2 separate regions of the Homo sapiens genome follow, and region 1 is linked to region 2. Evidence: fine-mapped expression QTL. A gene starts in region 2. The other region holds a variant in brackets. All regions are shown on one strand. Distances are from middle to middle. Region 1 overlaps SCIRT (stem cell inhibitory RNA transcript). Region 2 holds the start of SCIRT (stem cell inhibitory RNA transcript).

Evidence for each region. PIP is the estimated chance that this variant, and not a neighbour inherited with it, causes the effect. A credible set is the group of variants that fine-mapping cannot tell apart.
Region 1: its variant is the best candidate, but not a certain one, in a credible set for the expression of SCIRT in putamen (GTEx, PIP 0.56).

What each region holds. Positions count from the first base shown.
Region 1 is chr6:44,003,769-44,019,671 of GRCh38, reverse strand. All of the region lies in intron 1 of SCIRT (stem cell inhibitory RNA transcript), which reads left to right. It overlaps LINC03040 (long intergenic non-protein coding RNA 3040), which reads right to left. Exons shown (of 3, transcript NR_160956.1): 3 at 12,060-15,903. Among named protein-coding and RNA genes, the nearest start is that of LINC03040, 11 kb to the right of the region's middle. RefSeq lists a silencer at 8,952-9,150 and enhancers at 8,241-9,440, 14,459-15,090. The variant A/CATTA (reference allele first, on the strand shown) is at 9,640.
Region 2 is chr6:44,065,435-44,081,337 of GRCh38, reverse strand. SCIRT (stem cell inhibitory RNA transcript) reads left to right here and starts at 6,686. Exons shown (of 5, transcript NR_125864.1): 1 at 6,686-6,841. RefSeq lists enhancers at 5,606-5,675, 6,796-7,055, 8,076-8,175, 8,216-8,275 and silencers at 7,566-7,825, 7,916-7,995.

The DNA of each region.
Region 1 (15,903 bases), 62 kb after region 2:
GCTGGGGTGCACTGATGTGATCACAGCTCACTGCAGCCTTAACCTCCTCAGCTCAAGCAATCCTTTTGCCTCAGCCTCCTGAGTAGGTGGGGTCACAGGTGTGCACCACCACACTCAGCTAATTAAAATTTTTTTTGTAGAGATAGGGTCTTGCTATGTTGCCCAGGCTGGTCTGGAACACCTGGCCCAAGTGATCCTCCTGCCTCAGCCTCCCAAACTGCTGGGCTTATAGACTTAAGTCACTGCACCTGGCTGAGCTTGGCTTTTAAATGCTTTTCCTCTGGGAATGGAGGGAGTGAGTGACTGAGAGGTTGAAAGGTTAATCAGCGCTTTTGAGGATCTGGGGATATGAGACAAAGCCTACCAAGAGGAGTATTTGGTAAACCTCCTTGCTTTGGATTGAGACCCCAAAGGGCTGTGCCTGAGGACTAAGGATAAACTGGAAGTAGACAGGTTCTTACAGTGACTGCCGCTCTGCTTAGACTCATCTCAATTCCTGAAATTGGATTAAGGCGATCCAATGTTGCTAGTGCCCTCAGGGTCTTGCAAATCCTCTCTGGAAGAAGATGTCATCCTGGTGTCAGATAATTTCTACAAACAACTTTGCACCTGCAATGTCCAGAACACACACACACACACACACACACACACACACACAAACAAAAACAACTCACAAAAAAACAAATAAAACACACACATACACACAACAAACCAAAACCAACACCAAAAACCAAACACATGAGACTGGACAACATGAACAAACATAAAAGCATATACAGCAGGGGTTCTAGATGTTGGAATTATCAGATGCAGATTTTATAATTAAAAAAACAGCAATGCTTATTATGTTCAAAGAGATAAAAATACATGATGGAAATAGACATGGTTTGAGAATTTTGGCAGGGAATTGAAACTTTGTTAAAAAAATTAAAATTCTAGAACTGAAAATTATAATACCCAAGACTAAGGATTCAATGGATAGGTTTAAAAGTATATGAAACATAGCTGAAGAAAGAATTACTGAATTAGAAGCTAGATTAGAAAAAATATCCAGGCCAGACATAGTAGCTCACGCCTGTAATCCCATCACTTTGGGAGGCCGAGGTGGGTGGATCACTTGAGGTCAGGAGTTTGAGACCAGCCTGGCCAACATGGTGAAACCCTGTCTCTGCTAAAAATACAAAAATTAGCTGGGTGTGGTGGTGCATTCCTGTGGTTCCAACGACTTGGGAGGCTGAGGCAGGAGAATCGCTTGAACCCAGGAGGCAGAGGTTGCAGTGAGTCGAGATCATGTCACTGCACTCCAGCCTGGGTGACAGAGTGAGACTCCATCTCAAAAAAAGAGAAAAAAAATATCCAGAATGAAACATGGAAAGGTGAAAGAATGAAAAATATAGAAGAGAGTCTAAAAGACATAAAGAAAGCAGTTAGAATGTGAAAGAGAATAGGGCAAAAACAATATATGAAGGGATAATGGCCGAGACCTTTCCAAAACTGATGAAAGATATCAATCCATATACTCAGTTAAGCCCAAATAACCTAAAGCAAGAGAAATAAAAAGGAACCGGCACCTAAGCCTATCAGAGTAAAACTAAAGAGTATACCTTTACTATCAGAGTAAAACTAAAACCTGATCATCAAAGATAAGATCTTTATTTTTTAAAATTTTTATTTATTTATTTATTTTGAGACAGTCTCTGTCACCCAGGATGGAGTGCAGTGACATGATCTTGGCTCACTGCAACCTCCGCCTCCTGGGTTCAAGCGATTTTCCTGCTTCAGGCTCCCAAGTAGCTGAGACTACAGGCATGCGCCACCATGCCCAGCTAATTTTTGTATTTTTAGTAGAGACGGGGTTTCACCATGTTGGCCAGGATGGTCTCGATCTCTTGACCTCGTGATCTGCCCACCTCCCGGGTTCAAGCAATTCTCCTGCCTCAGCCTCCTAATTAGCTGGGATTACAGGCATGCACCACCATGCTCAGCTGATTTTTGTATTTTTAGTAGAGATGGGATTTCATCATGTTGGCCAGGCTGGTCTCAAACTCCTGACCTCAAGTGATCTACCCGCCTCAGCCTTCCAAAGTGCTGGGATTACAGGCCTGAGCCACAGCGCCCAGCTAAGGAGATCTTTAAAATAGTTAGATGAATAAACAGATTACCTTCAAAGGGGCAACAATTAGTCATGCAGCTAATTTCTTAATGGAAACAATGGAAGCCAGAATATGATGGAATTCTTTAGAGCCCCATATGAAATGGAAAAGAACAAAGTGTTTTTCTCAACATGGAACACTTCTGGCATATATGTGGCGATTTCTCCCTACCAACAATCAGCTCTCTAGTGGGCACCAATTGAGTGTCAATACTGACACTAACTTAATTCAATACTGACACTAACTGGAGTTAATGTAGATCACATAGGTCTAAGGACAGTCCCACAAGACTGCCTCCCATTTCAGATGACAATTACAAGTGCCAGGTTGCAAGGTATGCTTCTGACTAGCAGGCTATAAATTGGGGGTTTCCCCTCTCCTCAGGTTCAATTAAATTTCTTGAGAGGCTCACAGAACTCAGGGTAACACTTTACTTACTATTGCCAATTTATCACAAAGAATTATTTTGAAAGATACAGATGAACAGCCAGATGGGAGAGCTACGCAAAGCGAGGTATGAGGGAAGGGGTGTAGACTTCCATGTCCTCTCCAGGCACACCACCTTCTAGGAACCACCATGTGTTCAGCAATCTGGAGGCTCTCTGAATCCAGTCCCTTTGGGTTTTTATGATTGATCACGACATTGGCCTTTGGTGATCAACTCAACCTTCAGCCTTTCTCTCCTCTCCAGAAGTTGGGGCGGGGGTCTGAAAATTACAAGACTAATCACATGGTTGGTTCCCCCGGCAACCAGCCCCATCCTGAGGCTATCCAGAAGCCCCCAGTCACCAGATATCTCATTAGCTACAAAAGATACTTATCACTTAAGAAATTCCAAAGGTTTTAGGAGCTGTGTGCCAGGAAACTGGGATGAAGACCAAATATAGTCATGTGTCTGAGAAATGCATCATTAGGCAATTTCATCATTGTGTGAACATCATAGAGTGTACTTACACAAATATAGATGATATTGCCTACTATTCTGGGCTATGTGGTTCTAGGCTACAAACCTTTGTATCACGTTACTGTGCTGAATATTATAGGCAATCGTAACACAATGGTAAGTATTTGCATATCTTAACATGGAAAAGGTACAGTAAAAATGCAACATAAAAGATAAAAAATGGTGCACTTGCAGGGGGCACTTACCATGAATGGAGCTTAAAGGACTGAAAGTTGCTCTGGGTGAGTCAGCGGGTGAATGGTGAGTAGGTGTGAAGGCCTAGGACATTGCTGTATACTACTGTAGACTTTATAAACACTGTATACTTTGGCTACACTAAAATTATTTTTAAAATTTTCTTTCCTCTGTAATAAATCAACCTTAGTTTACAGTAACTTTTTAACTTTATAGGCTACTTAATTTAAAAAGTTTTTGATTCTTTTGTATTAACATTTAGCTTAAAACAAAAACACATTTATAGCTGTGCAAAAATACCTTCTTTTAAAATACTTTCATTCTGTAACTTTTTTTCTGTCAAAATTGTTTTTAACCTTTACAAGTTTTTTGTTAAAAATGAAGACACAAGCACACATATTAGCTTAGGCCTACACAGGGTCAAGATCATTAATATCACTGTCTTCCACCTCCACACTTTGTCCCACTGGAAGTTCTTCAGGGCTGATAACACATGGAGCTGTCCTCTCTTCTGATGACAATGCCTTCTTCTAGAATACCTCTGAAGGACTTGCCTGAGGTTGTTTTACAGTTAACTTTTTTTTTTAGTAAGTAGGAAGATTATACTCTAATGATTAAAAGTATAGTACAGTAAATACAGAAATCAGTATCACAGTCATTTATGAACATTATCAAATATGTACTGTACATAATTTTAAGTGCGATACTTGTATGTGACTGGCAGCACAGGAGGTTTGTTTAAACCAGCATCACTACAAAGACATAACTAACATGCTGCACTAAGACGTATGATGGCTGCAATGTCAGTAGGCACTATGTCGTATGATGGCTGCGATGTCAGTAGGCAATGGGAACTTTCAGCTCCATTATAATTTGATGAGACTGCTGTTAAGTATGTTGTATGTTATTGACCATATGTTGTTTTGTGGTGCATGACTATATACATTTCTTATCATAAATAAAAATGTTACAAGGGCTAAAATAAAATGGGCAGCCTATAATTTAATGCCCAGAAAAAAGTATTCAAGAAGGAAGGTGAAAGAAATATATTTTTAGAAAAATAAAACTGACAATTAATTACCAGCAGATTTGCATTAATAGGACATTTTATTGGCAGAATAAAATAATTCTAAATGGAAGAATAGAGATACAAGAAAGAATAAAGAGCAATGAAAATGGTATACATGTGGATAAATAGCAAATATATGCTACATATAAATAATAATAATAATGGTGTTTGGGAAGAGTTAAGGTTTTTAAGGTTCTTGCATTTATTTTGGGGAGAGTAAAAGAATCTATTAACATTAGGATTTGTTAAAAAGGCATGCTGTAATCTCTGGGTGGCTACTAAAAAATTATAAAAAAGTGAATAACTTCCACATTTTAAAAGGGGGATAATTAAATAAAATAATTCCAACAGAAGGCAAAGAAAGGAGAGAAAAAGGAGCATAGGTAAGTAGCACACATAGCACTTAGTATTGGTTTAAGTCCAAATAAACAGTAATTCCATCGTATATAAAATGACTATTTTTTCCCATTAAAAGGCAAGGATTTTCAGACTTATTTTGGATAAGAACCCAAATCTGGCACAGTGGCTCATGCCTATAATCTCAGCACTTTGGGAGGCCAAGGTGAGAGGATCACTTGAGCCCAGGAGCTACAGACCAGCCTGGGCAACATAGAGAAAACCCATCTCTACAAAAAATACAAAAATTATCTGGGCGTGGTGATGCATGCCTGTTGTGAGCAGTGAGCATGTAGAGAGGTGTGATCATGCCATTGCACTTCAGCCTGGGCAACAGAGTAAGACCCTGTCTCATAAAAAGAAAAAAGAATCCAAATCCAGCTACACCCTGTACATAGATGTACCTGAAATATAGAGATAAAGTAAAAGTCAAAGATAAAACATGTAACACTAACAAAAACAAAAAGCTAGTGCAGCTATGTTAAAATCAGACTAAACAGATTTTAAAGCAAAGAGCATTGCTAGATATACAGACATTTCACAATGATATAATGTTCAATTTTCCATGAAGATGTAATAATTCTACATTTGTATGCACCTGATAACTTGGCCTCAAAATACAGCTGGCCCTCTATATCTGTGGGTTTCATATCTGTAGATTCAACCAACTGGAAATCAAAAATATTTGAGGAAAAAACAACAAAAAATAATGCAAAATAAGAATAATACAAATAAAAACAGTACAGCATAATAACTATTGATATGGCATTTACATTGTATTAGATATTATAAGTAATCTAGAGATGATTTAAAGTGTATAGGAGGATGTGCATAGGTTATATGCAAATACTACATTATTATATATAAGGAACTTTAGCATTCCAAGATTTTGGTATCCGCAGGGGTCCTGGAACCAACCCCAATACTCAATTTGACACGCAAAGTCCTCTGTGATCTAGCCTCAGGTCACCTTCCTTTCATCCTCCATCTTCCACTGCTCTCCTTTCCAAAGCCTGTGCTCATTCCTCAGCCACCTTCACTCCTAGGCTCTAGTCCTTTCCCCACTATTGACCATTTTGTCTGTTGTGCCCTCTCCCACTTTCGAGAGTGACAGGTCCACAAGTCATCCTTCAAAGCTTAGCCCAAATGACACCTCTACAAAGTCTTCCCAATGACTCACGTTAGTCTTCATCTCTCCCATCATGCCCCAAACTTGGTGACTGCTAGTGGATTTTGAGGCTAGATACCATTGAAATCACCAAGAAACAGAACTCTTGGATCCTCATTATTAGAATACCTATGAGACAAATTTGCTGCTTAGTCTTGGGCCAGTACCTTATCCTCCCTGGCTCTTAGTTTCTACAACTGTACAAGAAGTACTTTGGACTAGAAGTGGTGTTTCTCCAAGGAGAATAGGGGTGCAATGCTTCACTATGCAAACTGCCTTGTCCATTGTGGGATCTAGCATGCCCGGCCTGGGGCACCCAATGCCAGAACATCTCTAATCACTATTACAATGAAAAAGACTCCAAAACATTTTCAAACACTCTAGAGACCATCTCCACTAGACTGGGTGATTCCTTAGGATCTTCCAGGTGAGATACTCTTGGAATCCTCTGGTTGGCGTGTAGGGACCACTGGTGGCCCAGAAACATGCAGAGGGCTGGACAGCGGGCCAATGGTGGGGAATAAGCTGGAACCAAGCTGGAGATGATGCCCAGGCCATATCCTGGCTCCTGAGGGCAGAACTAGTGTTCAGATTCCCAGCCTTCAAAGGGGCATGAACTCTCAAATGGCTCAGGCCTTCTTTTTTTTGAGATGGAGTCTCGCTGTGTCGCCCAGGCTGGAGTACAGTGGCGTGATCTCGGCTCACTGCAACCTCCACCTCCTGGGTTCAAGCAATTCTCCCGCCTCAGCCACCCGAGTAGCTGGGACTACAGGCGCCACCAATACACCTGGCTAATTTTTGTATTTTTTTGGTAGAGACGGGGTTTCGCCATGTTGGCCAGGCTGGTCTTGAACTCCTGACCTCAGGTGATCCACCCGCCTTGGCCTCCAAAATGCTGGGATTACAGGAGTGAGCCACCGCTCCCAGCCCTTTAGGCCTTCTCGTCTGGGGAGCTCCAGTCTGTCCTGAAGAACAGAATGCAGCGAGTAGGTGATGCCCCTGGGGAGGAATGGCTCACTCGTAGCAGGACTCTACAGGTGGGGCTGGCTGGGGCTAAGAGGGGGTCATGGGCTATTAGTGGAGCTGGAATAGCAAGCAAGAAGAGTCAGTTGTCCTATGCAGGCAATCATAGGAAGTTGGGTGGGGTGGGTAGGGGGACAGTTGTGACTTGGGCAGATGGAGAGGGCTCAAGACTGACCACTAGGCATGCCAGCAGTGGTTATGGACAGCAGAACGGTTGTGTTGCCCTCCTGCAGGGGAGAATGCAAACACACCTGGTTGTCCAGACTGGGTGGTGGAGAAGTAAGGGCAGAGAAAGTTCTCGTGTAAATGAGCATGATGAAGGGCAGCAAAGAGTGATGAGGCAACTGCAGAGCCGCCTCTCCTCAGAGGTGGTTTGTGGTGGGGCTCTGGGGGAAACCAGAGTGTTGCCCAATGTTAAGAGCTCAGAGTGAGTTTTCAGGAAGTTCTGGGAATCGTTGCAGTTGTTGATTCACTGAGTCATCCATTCAACAAGGATCTCCAGGGTTGGAATGAGAACACCCCAATCTTGTACATGTTCTGGGACCATAACTCATCTGGTGTGAGGTATCAGAGATTTGGTGACTGGGAAAAGAGGAACTTGGAAGGGGAAGAATTTGTCAGTGTTTATCCAACTGGGCCCAGTGGGGAGGCAGCTCTGAATCGAGAGAACTGGCCTCAAGCAGATGATGGGGGTCGTGACAAAGAAAGAGGGAGGAGGAAGGCTAGAAAGGATTATTTCAGGTACTGTCCCACCTGATCTAATGCCTGCAACCACCCAGTGAGCCCAAGGCTATGATTTCCCCTATTTTTCAGATTAACAAACAGAGGCCCAGTTCTTGAGTTCAGAAGGGCACTTCTTCAGGCTCACCGAGCTTGAATAGCCCTGAGAATCTCCAAACTGCCTTTGCCTCGATGTCTGCAATCTGTGGGTCTCAGATGGTGACTGCCAAAGTGGAAGGCAGTTTCTGTGTCTACTGTGGATCTTTCTGACAGCAACACCTGTCCCCACAGTAGCACCACCAGTTTTCCAGAAGTCTGGTTATATGGCTGGTGTCCCAGAATCTGCTCACCCATGGACAAACACATAAAACTGAATTTTTAAACTTTCCACACCAGAGACCAAGTCTTGGTGACTACACAATGTCAGCTAATGTGTTTTGAGTGTGTGCTATGTGCTTGGCACTGCTTTTAGCAGTTCAGATATATGAACTCATTCATTCCTCACACCAACCTGGGAGGGACATGCCTCTGTTATCCTCATTTTACAGGTGGAGAAACAGAAGCCTGGAGATGCTGAGTAACTTGCCCATAGTCTCACAGCTGACAAGTGGCCAAGAAGGATTCAAACACATGTGTGCTGGCTCCAGTGGCTCCAGAAGTCTGGTGAGGGGCTACCTGAAGCACATTGCCCCCTAGAGTTAAGGACAGCTGGATCTGGGCTCCGGAAGCCTGCAGTTCATTTCTGGCTGCACAACCAATTAGCTGTGTGACCTGAAGCGCATCTCTCACTCCCTCTCTGAATCCCCATTTTCTCCCTGGTTGAATGAAAGGATTCAACTGGATGGTCCCTAGCTTGGTTGGTTGCAGCTCTGACATTTCAAGAGGCTTCATCAGGCTAAAATAAGCACAAGAGCCACGCTGCGGTTGGGAAAGGGCAGCCTGGGACGTGCGTGCGTGGAAGCTGGGAGGCTCTCCATGGTGAGGAGGTGTAGAGGGCTAATTGCTAGTGCATGAGCTCAGCTGGAGGCCACTTTCTCCACTCTGTGCCCACAGCTGGCTGTGAGTCACTGACAGGTCACCAGCCACAGTGGGGCTGCTGGAGACAGGGCAGACCCTGAACATGGAGAGAAGACAAGTCTGACCCGGTGCTGGCCTTAGGGGGCCCAGGGGACTTGCATGCTCTTCCTAGTCCCTGCCTAGTGCTACTGCACCCTACTAGGAAGGCACCCCATCTCCATCTCCCTGAGCACAGCACCCCTTTTCATGGCAGCTCTGCCAGCCCTGGCACTCTGCCACTCAGCTCACATACACTGAGTAGCCATGCTGTGCCAGCACTGAGAGACCGAGGCAGGTAAGAGATGATCCCTGCTCTTAGGAAGCTTGCAGGCAAGGGGTCAGGGCCTGGCCATGTGTCTCAGTCTTCTGAACCTGCCAGTGGGGGCTTGGAACTAGGGCACCTGCACATGTCCCAGAGCTGGGGCTGTTGAAGCACCTACCCCTGCCCTCTGCAGGATGGCCAGGTGCCAACCCCACTCCTAACCCTGAGGAGGAGGCTGCCAGACAGGCCACGACCTCAGGACAGACGTGTGCCAAAGGGTCACCCCTGGGAAAGTGGCCCAAAGGGGGTTCTAGAAAGTTACCTCCTTGAGAAAGCTGAGAAGGTATGGGGAGCGGAGTCAGGGCTGAGCTTCTCTCAAGACGCTTCTCCTTGCACTGCTATGAATGTCTTCCAGCATGACCTGTCTGGGGTTGCTAGAGAGATTCAAAGTGTGTTTTCTGCCTCTGTGCGTGTGCTGCGTGCATCTCTCACTGGGCTCTTTGAGGACAGGGCCCATGGCTCGTTGCCTACCTGGGGTCTGGCATAGCGCCAGTCTCACAGACTCACTTCTGAGACAAACGTCAGAGGTCTCCAGTCTTCTGTCCAGCATGTGAAATTCTCTGTAGTATTCAGTGGTAGTTTCATTCATTCATT[A/CATTA]ATTCACTCACCATTCATTGGTTCCTTCATTGAAGCAACAGCACCTCTGTGAAGCGCTACTTTTGCTTCTGCTTAAACTCATTCCTGAGAAGCTCGTAGTCCTTTGGGATCATCCAATCGACATTGTGACCATCTGACTTTTAAGATTTCCTACTGTCGGTGATTTAAAAACTGACTCCCTGAGTTCACCTTCTGCTGGCATTTCTTCTGCTCCTGGAGAACCAGTTTAACCCTTCTTTGCATGGCAGCCTTCAGAGCATTCAAGGCATGCTCAACTCTCTTTCTTCCTTTCTTCCCCCCTTCCCTTTCCCTTCCCCTCCCCTCCGCCCTCCCTCCCTTCCTACCTCCCCACTTTCCTCCCTCCTTCCCTTCTCCCTTCCTCCCTCCCTTTCTCCCTCCCTCCTTCCCTCCTTCCCTCCTCCCTCCTTCCTACCTCCCTTCCTCCCTCTTCCCTTCCTCCCTTCCTCCCTTCCTTCCTTCCTTTTTCTTCCTTCCCTCTTTCCTTCTTCTTTCCATGTATAGACAGTTATTGAGCTTCCAGTATGGGACAGGCACCAGGAAAACAATGGTAAAAAGCATATACAGCCCTTGACCTCATGCTACTTACAGCCTAGTTAGGGAGGCACCACAGATCAACCAAATGGGTACCTGCAAAGCTGCCTCTATTAAGTGCAACCCCAAGACCAGGGCGAGGCATCAGGTAGAGCATGTAAAAGTGGGATAGCATCCACAGAAAGGGCTTTCTTTCTTGGGGTGAAACACCCCTGTGGCGCTTCCTTAGATGATGGGGTTTCTGGACTCCTCCCCACCCTGTCACTCTTTTTGTCACTGTCCCCTTGAGGAGGTCCCCAGGTCTGGACCCACTGCTCCAGGAGGGCCTGGCCAGCTTGGTGCCCAGGGAGCAGCCCCTCTCTGGTTGGACTCAGCCCTCCCATTAGTGCAGCCCAAGTCTGCACGCTCATTGCTCCCTGAGGGGCAAGGCTCCTCCCAGTAATGTTCACACAAATTGTTCTTACGTGTGGCCTCCCCCAGACTGTGTTTGAGCTGTTGAGTGTCTCACCTTGAGTTCGAGTCCTCGCGCTGGTCCTGTGAATGCTCATCTCTCTGGTATGGCCTATTCCCTCCACCCATCAGGGTCTGTCCGAGTCTGGATTCTGCTGCTGGCTGTGAAGCTCAGGGATGCATTCCCTGTTAATGTGACCAGGAGGGAGTCTGCTTATCCTAGATTAGGTACCTACAAGCAGGTTCTCAGGGAATATGAGGAGTTGGGGCACTTACAGGCCCGAGCTATGGAATGGCATCTGCCCTGGGGCTCCAGAAAGAGGTGCACAGGGCCTGAGGCTTGAGCTAAGCAAGGTGCTGCTGTTCTGTGATCTCTGCCCCGGCTCCCGTGCCCCTTCCCAGCCCATTATCAATACAGATGGGGGAGTGGGGCCAGATGCATGTGTATTTGTGTGTCTGTGTGGTGTGCACACACCTGTGTGTACATGTGGGTACAATGCGTGAGCCTGTAGGAATTGCCTGATAGGCCTCGCTGTTGGCTGGCATCCACCTTTTGCCATTGGTAACCCTGTCACTTGGAGGTAGCCAGGTCATCAGAGCTCTGGCTAGGGCTCCACTCACCTGCCCTGCCTAACAGCCACACCAAGTGGCTCATCCGCCCTGCCTGCAGGGTCCTACTCACCACCCCAGCCTCCTCAGGAACCTGGCCAGGACCCCCTCCTCAGTCCTTTACTTCTGCCCACCAGTCTCACTGCTGCTGGTGCCACACCCCCTCTCCCAGCCCCCAGCCCACTCCTTGCCTCAGCCCCCACAGGAAGCCTTTTAAAGAGACACCTGGCCCTGCTACTTCTCTGTTTATAACCCTTTCGTAGCATGGTCTCCCATGAAGGAAGTCCAGACCTACCCTGCCCCTCTTGCCCAGCCCCAGCCAACCCCCCAGCCTTAGCTTGCCCCACTCCCGCTCCAGGCTGGGCCATCCTGCACGACTCTCACTTCCCTGCTGTAACTGCAGGGAGCCGTGTGCTCCAGGCTCCAGGCCTTTGTGCAGGCTGCTCCTTCTGCCTAAAATTCGGGCCCCGCCAACTCACTTCAATTGTCACCCCCTCCTCATCCTTTCGGGCTCAGTTTAGACATGGGCTTCTCCAGGAAGCCCTCCCTGACCGTTCTCCTCGCTGTCACAGACTGTAGGCTCTAGGAGGGCAGGGTCCGTATGGGATTTATTACAGTGTTTTCAGAGGTGAATACTCAATAAATCTTATTAAATGCGTGAAATAATCTCTATGGATTTCTCATTTGATATCTGTAAAATGAAAACAATGCTATGTGACACACAGGGTTCTGAAGAGGGCGGTGGGAAATGATGTCTATGAATTTTCCATCATGGTGCTAGACATATAATAGGTGCTCCAGAAACATAGTTCTAATTTCCCTGCTCTTTAATGTTTATGGGTAAACACATGTTTTCCATTTAAAAAACTGAAATTTTGGAGTCCTTTTGACCCCAAAGCACGACTAGCTTCTTGCTGTCCAGGTTTCCACTCAAATGTCACCACCTCACCAAGATATTTTTGGACCACCCCATATAAAACAGCGCCCCCACCCCACCCCATCGCTCTCCACTCTAATACTTGCCACACCATGACCTGAGCTTTATGATTTTTTCACTTGTTGATCATCTGTCTTTCTCTGCCTAGAATGTGAGCACCATGAAGGCAGAGAACTTGGCTGATTTTTTCATTGCTGTAGCCTCAGTGCCCAGAGCCGTGCCTGGCAACATAGCGGCTGTCTAGGGGTTTCCAGGGCCAAGGCTGTGAAGTCTCTAGGCACTCTCTGGGGACAAATGCCAGAAAGAGAGAGAGACAGAGAGACAGAGAGAGAGAGAGAGAGAGAGAGAGAGAGAGTGTGTGTGTGTCTTTGTTTGAGATGGAAGGGCAGAAGTCGGTGAGATACCTCTTCCCTTCCCTCATTGTACATCTCAGGGAGGTGGGGACTCGGGGAAAACTCTCACAGCAGCTCCCTGGCCATGTTTCCTGAGGGAAATCAGGAGCAATGGCCTCTCCAGGGCCATGCAGATGCAGGTTGCTTGGGGTGCAGGGGAGGGGGCAGCACCTCCTTCGTGGTGACCCTGGGCATTTGGAACTGAACACGAGCCTTTCTAAGCACCCCTGACTCACAGCATCAAGGAGAGGCTGGGGCATATCTGTGGTTTCTCCCTTGAAGGGATCTGCTCTGCTGCCCCAAGCTGGGAGCCCAGGCCTAGGCCTGCCTCTTATTGGTGACTTTTTTCTTCCCTGGGCTGTACTTGCTCCTCTCTTCACTCTTGCCTTCCTGTCATCAGTGTCTGATGGGCCCTGTCCTACCTGCGTTCCCTGTTGGTATCAAATTCTCACACTTGTGGATGGAGTGGTGCAGCTCCCTGAGTCTCCCCTACCTATGCTGCCCGCCTTGGGCTTCCTGGGGTCAGCCCCCAGCCCTCAGCCACTGCAGGGCCCTGCTGGCCCTCCCACCCTACCACTCTGACCCTCCTCCGAGGCATGTGAGAGGGATTCCAGAGAAGAACTCCCAGAGCCTGCCACCCAACCTGCTGCCCCTCCCCACTGATGAAGGACACTCTGTCTCCACTTGGCCCCCGCCACCCCTCTAAGGGGGCTCAGCATCAGATAAGCCTATCTGACCTCTGGCTTGGATGGGTGGGGAGGGCAGAGAGCAGTGAGGGTTTGCCCAGGCAGTGACTTTGGACCCAAGTGTGGAAAGGAACTCCTGCTGGCTCAAGCCCCAGCCCCAGGCCCAGGGGTCTGAAATCACAGCCTCCTCCTTAGAGCTGTCGGCACCCCTGGTTCTAGAGCTCCCGGTCCTGTCAGGGTCCCAGAATGTTTGAGCAGGAAAGGATTTCAGAGTTCATACGTTTGTGAAGTGGACTCTGCAGTGCCCAGGAGCTGATCTGTGCGCACACGTATGTGTGCATTCGTGTGTCATGGACTAACCGCTGGGGCATGAAGCCCACCCCTATTTTGACCAAAGAACCCCCGACCTTTTTCCTATGTTACCACAGAGAACAGAGATGCCACATGATTTACAATTTAAACAAGAGGATTCACTGTTTGAAAAAAAGGTTTGAAAATCAGGAAAGCTAAACAAAAGTCATTTTACATATGGAGAAACTGAGACCCATATGTGTAAATGGCTTCCCAAGGTCACAGTGGTGTCAGTGGCAGAGCTGGTACTGTACCAGGCTGCCTGGATCATAGACTGATGTTTTTGCCAAGACCAGCCGAAATGTTCCTCTCAGGAGGTGGCAGGTGGGGGTGGAGTGCCAGGAAGGCACTGTCCAAAGAAGTGGGTTAAGGTCACAGCCTCCCGGCTCCCAAGGACCCCCTGAGAACAGTTGCTTTGGAAAGGTCACTCAGATGTGAACCAGAGGCTTGAGGTTTTGGAGTGGAAAGGGGCAGGGTAAGGAAGAATAGAGTAGGGGGAGGGCGGGGGACAGGGATTCATCCTCCAGGTTCCTCACACCCCCACTGGGAGCAGCGCCCCCCCCCCAAGCACCTGATTTCAAAGTCTCCCCTCCACTGAAGGGAGGGGCAGAGGGAGCTCATGACTGGCATGGAGGGGGCTGGGTGGCCCTGAGGTAATGACTGCTGGGGTGGGGAGGCTCTGAAGCAGGAACCTGAACTTTCTGTCTCAGAGTCTGCCCTGGCAGTCAGTGGCAGAAATGGCACAGTAGGGGGCTCTGTGGCACTCACTGTGTCTCCCCCAGTGCCCAGCTGGGGACTCAGGAAATGCTATTGAATAAATGGATTGTGTCCTCCCTCCCCCAGCACCCCCACAATCACCAGCCTCCTCCCTCTCCCTCCCCCTGTCCTTTAGAGTCTACAAGGACTGAGTTATTCTTAGTAAGTTTCATTCATCAAAGCGTGACAAATGGTGTCCTGGGAGGAATGCCTGGGCGCCATGGGGAGCCAGAGGGTGGGGTGGGGTGCAAATGTCCCATTTGAGGGGAGAGGCCATTGCCTTCAGGGAGCTCCAGATGGAGGGGGAGACAGCCCTGTCCTCATGGGAATCTGTCTGATGCAGAAGACACAAAGAACCTAGTCCCAGGGGAGACACAGTCCCTGTCCTTTGGGGGAGGCCCCAGTCTGAAGGGGGGAGACAGCCCTGCCCTCAGGGAGCTCCAGTCTGAGGGGAGATGCAGCCTCATCCTCAGGCAGCCCCAGTCTGAGGGGGACACAGCCCCATCTTCAGGGAGCTCCAGTCTGAGGGAGAAGCAGCCCTTTCTTCAGGGAGCCCCAGTCTGAGGGAGACACAGCCCCGTCCTCAGGGAGCCGCAGTCTGAGGGGAGACACAACGCTGTCCTGAGGGAGCCCCACTTTGAGGGAGACACGGCCCCATCTTCAGGGATTCCCAGTCTGAGGCAGACACAGCCCCGTCCTCAGGGAGCCCCAGTCTGAGGGGAGACACAGCCCTGACTCAGGGAGCCCCAGGCTGAGGGGAGACACAGCCCTGTCCTCAGGGAGCCCCAGTCGGAGGGGAGAAACAGCCCCATCCTCAGGGAGCCCCAGTCGGAGGGGAGAAACAGCCCCATCCTCAGGGAACCGTCAGTCTGAATCGGAGACACAGCCTTGCCCTCAGAGCGCTCCCTGTGATAGGAGATAATCCTCCCATATTCCCCCCTTCTCCAGCCCTTAGTGAAATCCCAGCCTGAAGGGAGAGATCCAATTTCCTGTTCTCAAGCAACCTCTAGTCTCATGGCAGAAAAATAGCTACCATCCCTGATGGAGAAGATAGGGTGCCACCCAAGTCACGGACTGAAACTCAAGATGACAAAAGGGAGTGCTGGAGGGGTATCCGGGAGCATGTGCAGCCACCACGGCCACTGCAAGTGGGGAGCCTGACGATGACAGAGAAGAGGGGGCTCCCAGAGACACTTGACTGGGCACCCTTACCAAGAAACATGCAGACCACAAAGGGGCAGCAATCATGGGGACTAAGATCCTGACGCTGAGGAAAAGGATGTAGGCACGGGCCCAGCGGGCCGGTCTAAATCAGAGGTCCACCTTCACTGGGAGGGCAGTCGGAGAACCCACATTGTCTGCAGACTCTCACATTCAACCTAAAACCCATGTACTCATTGCAAGCCAAACAAAACCTCACTGAAGGTAAAACGTGGCCCAAGGCCATGAGTTTGCAACACCCTGGACCTCAGGAAAGAATTGCTGATAGAGGAGAGCTCTGAGCCTGGTTTTGGGGGAAGGAGCTGATGGC
Region 2 (15,903 bases):
AGACCCTGTGCCCTGGGGTGAGCTGGATGACAGGCTCAGGGAGTCATGGGGGCAGGGGGGTTCTCTCTGTGCAGCTGCCTCCTGGAGGGCCTTTTGGGGGCTAAAAGTACCACCCTGCAAGCTTCCCTCCCTGGCTTCTGCCCCCCTCCCCTGCCCCATTTTGTCCCCTTTGTTACATTCCACAGTGGAAAGCGATCCCTCTCTCAAGGCCTGAGGATTACAGTCAGGAGAAAAGCCTGGGTCGCCCTGGGAACACTCACGTAGCCTTTTCCCACCGGTGCCCTCCTCCTCCTGACAAAGGCTGGGGTAGGGGGATGATCCTGATGCACCCCAGCCTGAGGGAGCAGTAGGGTCTCTGGGGTTGGGGGGCTGGTCAGCCTTTCCCTCCCTCCCTGGGGTTCAGCAACCCCAGGGAGGGAGTGAACTGTGTTGAGAAGCCCCCAGTGGGCCCTCTCAGGATGCAATTGGGGCCTAGGTCCTGGGTTTCCATGTGCCTGGGCTCCCCCTGCCCCCTCACTTCTGCCCTGAACCCTCCCGCAGGCTGCAGTGCCACTCCCCATCCCTACTAAGCTGGGGATTTCCGCAGGCTGAGCCAACCGCCTGACCCTAATTATGGCGCCTTCATCCTGTTGAGGTTAAGCTCCCTATGACTTTCTCTCCCCCCACCCCAGAGGCCAGGCTGGGGGTCAGAGACTCAAGAGTCTCAAGCCTACTGTGCCCCCTCTGGAAAGGGTTGATGGGCCTGTGTCCCCTTGGGTGGTTGGGAGGCAGCTTCTTGTGGGTCTGGGTAGACAAGCTAAGATAGTTTCTCTGGGCCGGGTGCGGTGGCTCACGCCTGTAATCCCAGCACTTTGGAAGGCTGAGGCAGGCGGATCATGAGGTCAAGAGATTGAGACCATCCTGGCTAACACGGTGAGACCCCGCCTCTACTAAAAAAAAACAAAAAAAATTAGCCACGTGTGGTGGCAGGCACCTGTAGTCTCAGCTACTCAGGAGGCTGAGGGAGGAGAATGGCGTGAACCCGGGAGGCGGAGCTTGCAGTGAGCTGAGATTGCGCTACTGCACTCCAGCCTGGGCAACAGAGCGAGACTCCGTCTCAAAAAAAAAAAAAAGTTTATCTGGAGAGCCCTTAGGACAGAGGGGAGCCCTGGGGAGCTGACCTCTAGAGGGCTGGGAAGTCTGAAGATGGGGAACTCCTAGAGGACCCATTCTCAACCCTGGCTGCCTATAGAATCACCTAGAAATATTTTCTTAAAATTACCTTTGTCTTAGCCAACCCCTACCAATTTTGATTTCCTTAGTCAGGGCTGGGCAAACATGGGTATTTGAAAAATCCTCCCAGTGATTCCCATGTACAGCCAATCTGAGAATCCTGCTCTGTCCTCCGCCCCATGATGCCATCGAGGAGGCTGAGGCTCAGTGAGCAGAGGCCCTTGATGGAGGCCACCCCACTAGTTGGGGCAAGGTCGGGTCAGAATCTGAGGCTTCTAACCCCATGGCAGGCTCCTTCCTATAGGCCTCTTCTGTCCCCCAGGGGCTGGTCTGGTGTCCCACTGAGTGTCACCTGTATTCATTTCACCATTTGGGCACTGAGGAGCTGTGTGACCCTTGGCAAGTTGCTTAACCTTGGTTTCTTCTTTGTGATAATGGGCTCCAGTGATAAGAATTGGACAAAATGATGCCTGCAAAGTGTTCAGTGGCACTTGAGGGAAGAGTAGCCACTGTCCTGCTTTTTGCCTGGGGCAGGCCTGGTGCTGCAGGATCTGGGCAGAGGCCTCCTTGATCGTCCCCACCCATCAGGCAAGTGAAGCCCTTAGAGGTGGAACTTCGGAGGGTGGAGTCCCCGGGGAGTGGCCACCCCTGAGGCTCCCCAGGGCCCTGACAGGGAGTTGGGAGGTGTAGGGAAAGTGTGAAGAATGGCTTCCTTGCACACTCGACTTCATGCACTTCCAGGTGGCGGTGACAATGGTCAGGATTCTGCAGTTATATGAATGGCCACCAGGAGTCACCCTCAGCTCATGCTTGAAGTGAAGGCAGCACAGAAAAAGGGAAAGGAGCTGTAAGGGAGAAAAGGAGGAGGACACCCCACCACAGAGTGGATGAGCCTGGAGGGGACCCAAGGCTGCCAGAGTGGCTGCTTCATTTCTGCAGGAAGGTGCAGGACAGAACTCAGACTGGTGGGCACCGTGCCAGCAGGCAGAGGAGGGAGCAAAGGCTCATTTGTCTGCCTTCGGAATTCTCCTTCCCATGCTGATGTCAAATCACAATTCAACAGATTCTTCATGGGGCACCTGCTGCACACAGAGGGACAGGAATCTTACTGAACACCTAGTATATGCCAGAGCCTACACACACAGTGGGCTACTCAACATTCACAACAACTCTGTACAGTAAGTACAAATATTGGTCCCAAGATACAGATTGGGAAACTGAGGCTTATACCAGTTATGTGTTGTGCCCAAGGTCACCAAGCTGGATGAGGACTGACGCCTGTCTGGAGCCTAAATTCTTTCTCCTACACCAGATTGACTTCCAGAGAGTTCTAGGATACAAAGCTGGCAACAGACTTTCTGCCACGTAGAGGGATATGGCAGGTGACAACCCTGTCTGGCTCTGCTAATCAGGATCCAGTAAGAAGCTCAAGACAGGTGGCCACTCTGCTGGTAGGCAGAGGAGGGAGCTGTGCTCCCTGGGGTGGGTAGAAGTAAGGTTTGTGTGGGTGCTGGGTGTTGGACACGGGCAGGCTGCAGACATAGCAGCAATGAGGGGAGACTCTCTCAACCTGCCCATGTCCTCCTCTGAGCAATCTCCCCGCCCCAGAATTATTTCAGTTTCCTCATCTGTCAGTTCTAGGGGTGGACTTCATTCATTCAATACTGTGTCCCTGACCTCTGCTCCCTGCCAGGCTCTGAACTAGTCATGTGTCAGGCTGGATACTTAGATGGACAAGACAAGCCATCCCCTGCCCACAGCTGCCCCACCTGAAGTCTAGGCCAGTGACCTCCGAAGTTTTTTTGATCATGTGCCCTTAGCAATAAAAAAGATTGTTGAGTACGCACCCGTCAGATGAGTATGTTTTTATATAGTTTACCTTGTAAAACACACTCACACTAAATGAAAAAAGGATTCGATGAAAAATAAATAGGCATTCTAAAACTTTCTTCCAGTACCCCTGAACCACGCACACATATGGCACTTGGAACCCAACTGCTCCAGGAGCTGGGAGGGTAGGGTCAGTCCAGCCATACTCAGGACGGATGTGTGGTCAGTGTTCCAGAACATCCTTGCCCACCCCTTTATGCCCTAGCAAAGGAAGGGAGAAACTTCAGATACAGCAGGTGGGAGTGTGGGCAGATGGGAAGCGTAAGCAGGTTTATGTCTGAGGAGGCAGACAAGAGGCAGGTTTTTATTTTAGACTGTGATGTTGAAAATTTTGTGATCACTTTTTACACTGTCCCAGGACATACAGAACCAAGACATAGTGTCCCAAGTAGTATCTAATTTCATATACTTTAGGTAGTTCTATTCCATTTCCAAAGGTTTAGAATACCGCCCCACCTCAACCCCCAGGAAACTGGGGAGCACTCCCTCCACTACACACACTTGGGACACGAAGGACAGACCCTGGTTGGGGAGGCACTTAGGTGTCCCTTCCTTAGGGGCTTTATCTCTCACTTCCCCTCCTGGGTTGGAGGCTCCTGTGACCCCCTCGCCTGGGCAGGTCCCCATGCAGGGTAGAGCACTTGGAGGCCTCTGTAAACATGGGTTACAGGAGAGAGGGGGCAAGAGGCCACAGCTGGGGTACATAAGGAAACCCCTCTGTGGGCCCCCTTACTCAGAGAAGTCTCAGGAGAAACCCTTTCCCCCACCCCCAGTCCTGGCACCAAGCTGGAGAAAGACAAAATGGCTTGTGAAGGCATCTGTCTGCCCTCCAGGGTGGCTGCCAGGGGGGCAGCCATGATGGCTGGCCTGGTGTGGGTGCCTTTGTGTGCCATGACTGGGTGTCTGTTTCTGCAGTCACTAGGCGCTTGTTCTGTGGGGTGAGGGGTGTGGGGGTGGGGGCACGGCCTATGGCAGGGCACGTACGTGAGGCTGGGCACGAAAAGCCTCACCCACCTCCTGCCAGGTACAACCAGCTGCTGGGGCCAACTGCCGACCGCCTCCTCCCTTCCCTGGGCACGGCCAGGCCGGGGGGCAAATGACTTGGCAGGCACCTCCCCTCAGTTGGACCCACTAGGGCAGGGCCGGCTCACCTGGGGCACAGGCAGGGCTCCTGGCTGGGTGGGTGTTCTGCCAATCCCTTCCCCAACTCCTAAAGTGGGAGGGTGGTGGTGAGGCCAGGGAAGGGGCGCAGGTCAGAGATATGCCCCCTCTCCTCTCCCAGACTGTGCATGGGTAAAGCAGGGCAGAGAGGGGCTGGTGGAGGGGCGGGAAGTTTCTCTGTTTAGGGCCAGGAAATGATTTCCATGCAAATGAGATGCAAACTCCTTAATGAGTTTGCAATTAGGAGACCAAGGCTGCCAGGCCGGGCAGCGCCTGCAGGTTTTATGAATGGGCCAGCGTAGGCGGGGGGGAGGGGGCGCGCCGGCCCGCCCCCACATTTCCCTGCCGCGGCGCCCGCGACATGCCGCGCCGCACGTTGCTGCCTCCAGGCCCCGCCGCGACCTGGCCCACCGCCAGCGGGTCAGCTGCTCCGGACGGCGCGGGAGGCTGCCGGCCAGAGTCCCCGCCACGCCGCCGGCCGGCGACGCAAAGGAGCCGACGACACTCCCCCTGGGGCCCGGCAGGGGCTCTGTCCTCGGGCCCCCTTTTTTCCCGGTTATTGGAATGATTTCCCGAAGCAGGAAGGCCAGAAGTTAGCCTTCAGGCCCCGTTGTATTTAAAATGGGCTGCCCTGGGACTTCACTGACCAAAGGAGGGGGCTGGGCCCCTAACTTGGGTGACAGCAATGACCTTGGGAGGGATGGAATTATACGTGACAGGAGAGGGACCAGTTCCCATCCCAGAGCTCCTTGCACCTCTCCAATTCCCTCATGCCAGTCCACACCTCCCTAACCTCAAAAGGCCTGTTCCCACCACCCCAGGGCACCTGCTTTTTCTGCAGAGCCACCCTAGTCCACTTTGGGTCTTGCTCTGACCTGGGGCCCAGGAGAGGGTCTCCTAAGTGGGTGGGTACACACAGGTTTGCTGTGGTCCAGAAGGAGGCTGACCAGAGTTTGAGAGTTTGAGCCCAGTTAGGTCACAGCCCCCTACCTCCTCCCCTCCCCTCTCCTCCCCCTGTCCCCGCCCTGCCCCATTGCTTTCAGAGTAAATTAACTAATTACCTCCAATTAAAGCACCTGGCTCTCTGTATCCTCCTAGGCCTTCAATCACTGCTTCTGGGAGTCCTCTTCATCCAGGCAGGGTCTGGAAGGGGGCCTGACCAGTAAGTTGGAAGTCAGTGAATCAATGAAGTGGGGCGGGGAAGACAGGATGGAGGAAGCCCACAGTGCCATTTACTGCTTGGGAGTGGTCCAGGCAGCCAGGACCTCTGACTTGGCCAGCTTGCAGACTGAGGTTGGGTCTGGGGACTTGGGCCCTAGGGGGGCCTGTGAAGGCTGGGAGCAGGAGCTGCCTTTGGAGGTTAAGTCCCTGGTGAAGGGCCTGTGCAGATGTGTGCAGATGTCAAGGCCCTGAGGGTGACCCTAGAAGCCCCTCAGCAGGAGAAGCAACTTGAGGGTCAGGTCCTAGAAGCTAGCAGTTCTTGGCACCTGCTGCCTCCCTCACCCAGCAGGCAGGGAGAGACTCCAAATGCCTGTAGGCCCAACCAGTCCCTCCTGTCTTTAACCCCAGCTGGCTCCTCCTGCTGCTCAGGAAGTGAAAACCCCTCCATTCTTTTCTCCGGGCCCCCTTGGTGGCCCCCAGGCACAGGCCCAACACTAGCTCTGCCCAGCACTGTCCTGGCCCACCCCACGTGTAGGACGTGATGGGGAGGATACCTGGTGGCAGGAGGCAGACTGATGGATTGTTGACCTGGGTCTCACCTCTGGACGAGCTGGCCATTCCTGGGGACTGGGCAGGGTCACGCCAGGCTGTGACTCAGGCCCCTGCCCCACCATGCCAGGGACCTGGGCTTGGGCCATCCTCTGTGTATGTGGGGTGGGGTGGAGCAGAGGTTTGTCAATTGGAGGCTTCTCTTTGGGGACACCTCTCACAGCCCCAGGGAGCCAGACTATGACTAGAAGGATCAGGGTTTCCATGGCTGCTCCTCCCCACCCACCACCCCAATAGAGGCTGACAGGAAGGACTCCCAAGCAGGGCACAGCAGCCATATGAGTTAGTGGGTGTATGAGCCATCCAGGACAGGGGTAGGGCTCAGCACACAGGAAGGGCCACTCCTGGGGTGTCCTGAGCCCCTATCTGCCAGCTCGGCTTGTCTCCCTAGGCCCATGGAAAGCTGGCTCAAAACTCCCCACCTCCAGGAAGGCGTCACCATGCCTCGCTTGTTTGTGGCCAGCCCAGCGCTGCTCTCAGCTCCCACTTTTCACTTGTTTCTCTGCCTCTTGTCCCCTTTCCCAGATCCACCAAGCGTCTATGGGCAGACTGTTTTTTCCTGCACTTCCTAGTGGCCAGCAGAGGGCGCCGCCAAAAGACTGAGGCCACCACGGAGGGAACAGGAGAATCGGCTTTTTGGGGTCTAGCCACTGTGCAGAGCCCAGGCGCGTGGGTCGGTGTCGGGTGTGTGTGTACGTCTGTGTGTGTAATGAAACTGGACGCCTTCCTTCCCGGCGATCTTGACTTAACCTGTCAGCAGAGGGCTTGAGGTTAGACCACAGGTTGAACCTAGGTGGCTGCTGGAGAGGTAAGCCCAGGTGGCTCTTGGCAGGAAGAGGAGGATGAGTGAGTTGCTCCCTTCTAGCAACCCAAATGGGAAGGGACAACGGAGGTTGCCAGCTTTCCTCCCTGACCCTGGAAGAAGGGTTGGGAGGGGTTGCACAGAATAGCTGGTGTCCCACCCTGTGGGAGGAACTGCTATGGACATCTGGGCCACATCTGGTTTCCTGGCAAGGCAGGGAGCTGGTCTGTTTGGAATTCTTGGTCCACCGCTTGGTGGTCCCTCACCATTACATTCTAGGAGGACCCTTTACAAACAGGTGTATAGGGCGCAGCCCTGTAATGCGAGTGAGTCCACAGCAACCTAGTCGTGGTCACACTCCTTTGGAAGTGGCCCTAGGGGCCTGGGCAGCAGCCTGCTCCTCTGCGCCACTCGACCTTTCTGTGGCCATGTTGGAGTCTGCATGCTGAGATGCTGCCCTTTCCCCTTGGAAATGCTGGGAAATGTGCTCTGGTGTCCATCCTGGCCATGCCTCTTCCTCCAGGTGGGGTAAGAGATGAAAAGAGGAGTTAGTCTGCAGTACCTCTTAGGGACCCCACCCCATGAAAGGCGGAGTGGGGAAGTGCTTGCTGTTGGGTCACCTCCACGAAAGCTTGGGAATGCGGTTGGGACGGGTAGCGGGAGGAGGGGTCAGCAGGAGTGGTTCTTTCTTGGGTCTGGATTCTGGGTTTTGGGGACGAGACAACACGGAGGAAACCCCTCTTGGTCGGCTTGGTTCCAGGAGGCTCAGGCCGGGAGATGGCCGTAATGGCCTCGCAGAAAGAAGCGGGAGCGGGGGAGGGGGAAGGCTGAGCATCGAGCCCACCCGGACTCTCCCTCTGTCCTCCCCGCTGCGGGGGCCCACCCCTTCGCCCCCACCCCTCTATCTCCAGGGCCGCCGCGGCCCCTCCCCGAGACCTGGGCGCCGCCTCCCCCTCCCCTCCTCCTCCCCCTCCCACCCAGCGCTGCAGCTGCTGCCGACGGACCATTCTGCACGTAGCGAATGGAGGAGACGCACAAGGGAGGCCTCAAGTGCGCGCGCGCGGGAGCCGGAGCGGCGCGGGCGGGGGAGCGGCTGCGGGCGCGCGTGCGCGTGCGGCGCCGGCTTTGATCGCGCGCGCCGAGCTCCGGAGCGCGCTGCTCTTCTGAGCGCCGGGGTTGGGGATGCTGGGCGGTGAGCCTCCGTACCCTCTCCACTCCGCGCACGCTCTGTTACCCCTCCAGCAAACCCCGCCTCCAGCCAGGACCCTTTTCAGTTGCCACCCCAATAGTACTGTCCTCTGCGCGTAGTAGGGTCTTCTGTTACGGTGTGCCGGGTGACGGATTGTACAGTCAGCCAGGTCCTGGGCTAGGGTTTCACAGAGTTCAGAACATGCCCGTGTTCATGACCATATAGTTTCACTTTTGCCCCAGGATCTCTCAGCCTGGAGGCCCTCACCCGCCTGCCTCTGCTGCACCTCAAACCTAGGCAAGCCCCATAAAGCCCCTTATAAGGGCTTGGGAAGAAAAAACAAAGGAGTGCTTTGACTTTTATTTCCTCTGGGATGGGGAACTCCCAAGGGAGTTCATTTCCCTTTCACCCCCTCCTATGTTACCTGCACAGCTCCTACTCCCTGGGGTGTCCAGGACTCTGCTGGGCCCTGCCCACACCACTGACAAAGGTGTGGTATGGTAAGCACAGAGTCTGCGTCCTGGGACAACCCAGGGAGTACAGGGAGGCTGTGTCAGGCTATGGCAGGCAGGGCCTTCATCTTGGAGGTGTCTCCTGACTTCCAGGGGCACTCTCTTCACTTCCTGAATCCCTGATCAGGAAGGGGATTGGCAAGTGGCTGGCCTGCCACCTGGGCCACTGGCAAGTGGGTGGCCGGGGGGGGGGGGCTGTCTTCCTTCCCTGGATGGGCTACGTTGGCACCTCATTCCACCTTCCTCACTGTGCATCCTGGCTCTCCTGGCTAGGTGGGCATTGGGCAAGACAGGTGACAGGGCCTTGCAAAGGGATGTCTGAATAGGGTCGGTGGTGTTTTGAACCTCCCTGTGGGAGTGAACTGAAGGGGACTGGTCTGTGGAATGTGCAGGTGGAGGTAGCTGAGAGCTCTTTGTCACGTACTAACTTAAACTGGCCCCAGTTGTTTGACCCCTCTGAGCCTCAGTTTTCTGTGTAATGGGAGTACAGCATTCACCCAGCGGGGCTGTTGAGGATTAAAATATAATCTGCCTATAACATGCCTCATATGTTGGAGGCATGTATGAGGTAAACCTTTTTTTATTATTGTGTTTGAACTGGCTGAAAGTCTGGGGACATTTCCCTCAGCTTTGTTTCCATGGATAGAGTGAATTCAAATCCCGGAGCTGGCAGCTCCTTGGAATTTGAAGGTGGGCTTTGAGAAAACTGTAAAGAGGCCAGTAACATGTCATGTTTATGTCACCATCCAAGAATGAACCATTTCATACTAGTTTTCCAGACATTAATATCTGAAACCTTAAAAAGAGATATTTTGGATAGGAATCACTAGTGGATATTACACGCTTTCCGGGCTTTTAATCAGAGGTTACAGAACATGTGAGTCTTCATGACTCAGGGTTGTGGTTACAAGGGTCCATCAGTATCCTGGTTGTAATACAGTGAAAATCCAAGGCCTTTTTTGGCCCCACACCAACGGCTCATTCCATGAAGGCTACATTTTCGTAGTTCTTGTGTCTACTTTTATAGTACTTTATCACTTCATCAACTCTCTCCGTATAAACTATCACTTCTGTTACCATCACTTTGCCTGCCTCCAGGGCAGACCACCAAACCCACCCTATTCTCAACTTGTTTCTGTTTGGCTGTGGGCTGAGATGTCCGAAAATCACATCTGTTGGAAGATGTGAAAAACAACGAGATCTTTTGAACTTGACAAATTATATTAAAGTTCATCTGGAGAAATAAACATGCAAAAAGAGCTTGGAAAATCCTGAAAAAGAAGTATTATAAGGGACGACTAGTGCTACTAAAATGTTGTAGAAAGCTCCAATAATAAAATAGTTGGGTACTGGCACAAGAACAGACAGGCAGATCAAAGGAGCAGAGTAGAGGCCAGACACACACCCGTGAACAAATGGAAATTAAATATATGATAAAATGACATTTTAGATCAGAGGAGAAAAGATGAATTATTCAATCAAATTGGACAACTGGTTAGCTGTTAAGGGGGAAAAAAAAGAAATCCAGCTCCCCACTTCATCTCTTATTCTGAAATAAATCCCGATGGAGTGAAGATTTAAATGTAAAAAGGAAACCATAAAATTACTAGAAGAAAACATCTGAAAGTCTAAAAGTGTATGTTCTTGGATTGGGGAAAGTTTGACACAAAACCTAGGAGTCACAAAGGGAAAGAATTTTTTAAAATTGGCTGTATTAAAATATGACGTAGGGTGTTGTGTTACATGCCTGTAGTCCCAGCTCCTTGGGAGGCTGAGGTGGGAGGATAACTTGAGCCCAGGAATTTGAGGCCAGCCTGGGCACCACAGTGAGACTCCATCTCTGAAAAAAAAATGTGTTTTTAATGTAATATCCTGAATTCTAAAGACAACCGTCTGGAAAAAATATTTTTAACATAGATGACCGATGAGTTTTTACAAGTCAATAAGGAAAATAAAAACGAATAGAAAAATGGGCAAAGCACATAAACCGGTAAGGGGATACTAATGGTTAACAAGCAGGTGAAAATGCTCACCCTCAGTCAAAATAGAAGAAATCAAAATGAAGACATGAGAAGATTCTCTTTTCGCCAATTTGATTGACAACAACTAAAATGGGCAACCCCTCACTGTGTGGACACAGACATCCTCAGAGCTGGGGGGGAGGACAGTTGCACCTGTGAAGGGGATTGGCAGTATACATGAGAAGAATTAATTCACAAACCATGGACTCGAGGGTTCCATATCTAGGAATTTATCAGATGCACTGTTATAAATGTCACAAGTGTTCAAAGTATACATACAAGTGTGTTCATTGCAGTTTTGCTTCCAAACCTGAAAAACTGGAAGCAACATTAAGTCCATTAATAGGGCACGGATTGGATATGTTATGATGCCTCCAAACACCAATAGTATGCAGTGGTTGAAAAGAGTGAGGTTGAGGTTGTGTGTTGATATTCACTAAGTAGAAAAGCAAGTGGCAAGACATTCCTTGGGTGGTGCTACTCCATGAAGGGTGTGCCCTCTGCCAGCATGGGCATGGAGCCTATTAGAAATCCAGAATCTTCAGCCAGTTGCAGTGGCTCATGCCTGTAATCCCAGCACTTTGGGAGGCCAAGGCAGAAGGATTGCTTGAGCCCAGGAGTTCAAGACCAGCCTGGGCAGCATGGCAAAACCTCTCTACAAAAAATTAGCCTGTAGTCCCAGCTACTAGGGATGCTGAGGCAGGAGGATCGCTTGAGCCTGAGAGGTGGAGGTTTCAGGGAGCCAAGATGGTGCCACTGCACTCCAGCCCAGGTGACAGAGAGAGACCCTGTCTGAAAAAACAAACAAAAAAGAAACCTGGAATCTTGGGCCACCGTAGAACTACGGGATCAGAAACACTAGGGCTGGAGCCCAGCAGTCTGTGGTTTTAACATGTTCTCTGTATGATTCTGATGCATACTCGTGTTTGAGAAGTACTGATGAGGAGTATGTCACTATATGTGTAAAAAATGGATAAAAACCAGTTAGCCCTTCTGCCTCTAAAATTTCAGAGTCACCAGAAAGGGCTTTCCATGACCAGAGTGAGAAGGGATGGAAAAGTCCACTTTTCACTTTATGTGTTTCTGAACTGTTCAGACTTTTTGCCACGAGAATATATTACTTTGGTTTTTTTAAAAAGTAGTTAACTCTGGAGACTGAGGCAGGAGAATCGCTTGAACCTGGGTAGCGGAGGTTGCAGTAAGCCGGGATCAAGCCACTGTGCTCCAGCCCGGGTGACAGAGCGAGACTCCGTCTCAAAAAAAAAAAAAAAAAAGTAGTTAATAAATAAAAAAAGCTACCCAAATGGAGAAAGAAAATGTGGTACATACATACAATGGAATATTATTAAGCCTTAAAAAGGAAGAAAATTGTGACACATGCTGTAACAGGGATGAACTTTAAGGACATTGTGCTAAGTGAAATCAGCAAATCACAAAAGGACAAATATTGTATAATTCCACTTTAATGAGGTAACTAAGGTAGTTAGATTCATAGAGACAGAAAGTAGAATGGTGGTTGCCAGGGGCTGGAGAGATGGGGAGTTAGTGTTCAATGAGCAGAGTTTCTGTTTTGTAAAATGAAAAGAATTCTGGAGATGGATGGTGTTGATGGTTGCACAACAATGTGAACATATGTAATGTGAACGTATGTAATGTGAATGTATTTAATGCCACTGAAATGTACACTTAAATGTGGTTAAAATGGTAAATGTTCTGCGTATTTTATCACAAATTTTTTAAAGTTTAAAAAGCTACCTTTAGGTGTGTAAAGCAGGGTTAGTGATTGCCTCTGGCAGGTTCTGTGAGAGCCTCCATCTAGGTTACAGAGTATGTATTTGAGGGTTGGGCTTCTTGAGAACTCTCTCCTGCCGAGCCCAGTTGGAGCAAGTCTTGGCTTCCAGTAAGAGTGAGGCCGCGTGTTTGCCCACACAGTGGGAAGCCAACCTAAGAACTTGCTGCCTTGAGGGATGGGATAGGCTGACAATAGGGACAGATAGGAGAGTGGTTTGGTGACTTGCTGGAAGACAGAGGCATGCTAGGTTACTGGGGAAGCTGGATCCTTGCCCCTTCCCTGCTGCCTCTGCTGAGACCCTTCCCTGGCCTGGGGAGGGGCTTGCTCTCCTAGAGGGTCAAAGCTCTGCAGGAAGTGTGGTGAGCCAGTGGCCCTGGGGAGATGGCTCCTATGGGGACAGGAGGGAGAGAGGGCAGGATGAGTAGAGATTGTGGGGCAGGGCATGGGTTTCTTGGGAACAAGACTGTGCTCAGACATCTGGCTGGAGCAAAGACTGTACTTGAAAAAGGGATCAGGCCAGGGTGGGGTGAGGGGGAGGGGGCACTGGATGTGGGAGAACCTGCCCAAGCTGGGCCTAGCTCAGCCAACTGACTGTGACCCAGAAGCGGGGGACAGCAGGTGGGCTTCCACCTGTCCTTCTGCCAGCTGGGGGAGCGGGCTCCTGCACCAGGCCCTGGGGACTTCTCCAGGTGGCCCATTCTGGCCTGGATGCACAGCTGCCCATGCCACCCTAGACCCTCCCTCCCCAGGCACCGAAAGTCTGGGTTCCAGGAACTAACTAGGGAGACCTGTGGTCAAGGAAGGGTCCAGAGGTGAGGAGGCCCTGCAGCTAAACTGGCTAGGCTGATGGGGACACAGAACCCCACCCCAGGACCAGCACAGGTCAGTACATAGCAAGCCCTCATTCAATCCTACCCAGCAAACCCCTTTCAGGAAGCTGGGGACCAGTCCCTGAGCTCAGGGAGCTCACAGTCTGGCCGAGAGAGGAGCTACCCTGACTCAGGCAGAGTGGGTATTGACCACAAGCCTGGCTGCATCACCTCCAAGACATGATCTGTCCTGACTCTGTGACAGCCTCAGACTTCAGTCTGCCCATCTGTGTAATGGGGTTGATATCTTAGGGTGCCCTCAGCCATGGCAATGCCCAATTGTCAGTGTTAGGTGGGAGGCACCGACTCTGATCCTGCCAGCCTGGAGATGGGGTTGCCAACGGAAAAAGGAGAGCACAGAAGTCCAGCCCCAATCTCCACATGGCTCTGTGTTTTATTTCCCTGAAAAAGGCACAGGAGGTCAAGAGGAGGCAGGGAGGAGTAGGGGATAGAGGGCTGGGAAAGCCCAGCTCCTCGTATTGAAAGGTGACTAGGGAGTGGGGAGGGATTCCCAGGCCTGTCCAGCTGTTTCCTGCTTCCTTCACTACCAAATGTATACACTGTAAGGTCGGGCTGCCCCCTCACAGGGACCCACTGGGGTAGGAGGCCTCTCCCTCTGCTAATCCAGGTGGCTACAGCATAGGATAAGGGAAAGCTAATGGTGTTGGGACCCACTTCCTGTGCTGATTTGGACTCATGGAAGCAGGAACCTGCCAAGCTTGGCTTCCTCAGGCCACTGGTATAGCTGCCCAGGCTTGTCTGCCCACTCCCCATGCTCAAATGGTCCTGAAGAGCCCCTAGCTGAGGGCAGTGGGCATGAGATCATGCTACAAAATGCCTGTGCTCTCAGCTATACACCCCCCACCAGGTCCAGGCAGGCCCTGCCCACACATCCTGTGGGTCTCGCCTGCCCAGCTACCCATGGTGATTTAACGTGAGAGACTGGGGCTAGACTGTGGGAGAGACCACCCAGAGGGGTGAGTGGGTGAACTGGGAACAGGCTGCTCACTGAGGAAGCCCCTGCCAGTAAGCATGATTGTCCTTCCTCAGGAGGGTGGCCTGGTGGGAAGTAGATGCCCCACCCCACCCAGTCTGAAAACCCCCAGATGATGTTGGGGATGGTGGATGAGTTGCCTGTTTTAGATGCTAAAGGAGATCTAGTTCTGACCTAGTTTGATGGGATTGACACAGTGCCTGTCTTCATGGAATTCAGTCTGAGGGAGACACAGCCCTGTCCACAGGGAACCCCAGTCCGAGGAGAGACGCAGTCCCATCCTCAGGGAGCCCCAGTCTGAGGGAGACACAGCCCTGTACTCAGGGAGCCCCAGTCTGAGGCGGGAGACAGCCCTGACTCAGGGAGCCCCAGTCTGAGGGGAGACACAATCCGGTCCTCAGGGTGCCCCAGTCTGAGGGAAGACGCAGCTCTGACTCAGGGAGCCCCAGTCTGAGGGGGGAGACAGCCCTGACTCAGGGAGCCCCAGTCTGAGGGGGGAGACAGCCCTGACTCAGGGAGCCCCAGTCTGAGGGGAGACACAGTCCCATCCTCAGGGTGCCCCAGTCTGAGGAAGACACAGCCCCATCCTCAGGGAGCCCCAGTCTGAGGGAGACACAGCCCTGTACTCAGGGATCCCCAGTCTGAGGGGGGAGACAGCCCTGACTCAGGGACCCCCAGTCTGAGGGGAGACACAGCCGTGACTCAGGGACCCCCAGTCTGAGGGGAGATGCAGCTCTGACTCAGGGAGCCCCAGTCTGAGGGGAGACACAGCCGTGACTCAGGGACCCCCAGTCTGAGGCGGGAAACAGCCCTGACTCAGGGAGCCCCAGTCTGAGGGGAGACACAATCCAGTCCTCAGGGTGCCCCAGTCTGAGGGGAGACGCAGCTCTGACTCAGGGACCCCCAGTCTGAGGGAGACGCAGCCCTGACTCAAGGAGCCCCAGTCTGAGGGGAGACACAGCCCCGTCCTCAGGGTGCCCCAGTCTAAGGGGAGACACAACCCAGTCCTCAGGGTGCCCCAGTCTAAGGGGAGACACAACCCAGTCCTCAGGGTGCCCCAGTCTGAGGGGAGACACAGCCCTGCCCTCGGGGAACTCCCACTTGAGGGGAAATGCCCTGTGCTCCCTGCTTCCTCCCTTGCATGTTATTTTCCCACCCAGCCCCATCCTCTGCTCTCCTGAAGGTTTCCTGCCCTAGGAAGGAATTGAGTGGGTGAACTGGAGCTCCCGACTTGTTGTGGGCCTCCTCCCCGCTGACTCCCAGTCTGCTCACTGTCCCTTCATGGAGACTGTGAACCGAGTATGAGGGTTCCAGGTGGGGAGACCGAGTCATAGTGACTCGGGGTGGACTGGTCACTCCCCTCCCATCACCCAGAGTGGGTGTGTGAAAGGCAACATGAGGGCCACGGGGAGGAAAAGAAGAGGCTCCTTTGAGCTCCAAGCCCCAGCCACCCTCTCCCATGTGCTGGAGCCGCGCATACGTGTGGGAGATACCATGTACCGCGTCTCAGCGGACATGTGAGGCTGGGGTGTATCAGGGATCAGGAGTTGGAGATGAGGAAGGCAGATGCAGCTCAGCTGTTCAGGACAGTGAGCCCAGCCACCCTAGATGTGGTAGCACTTCTGTCTCCCCCACCCTCTGTCTTCTAGGCTCCCAGAAGCCCCTCTGTGGAAGCCCCCTTAGCCTGGGCT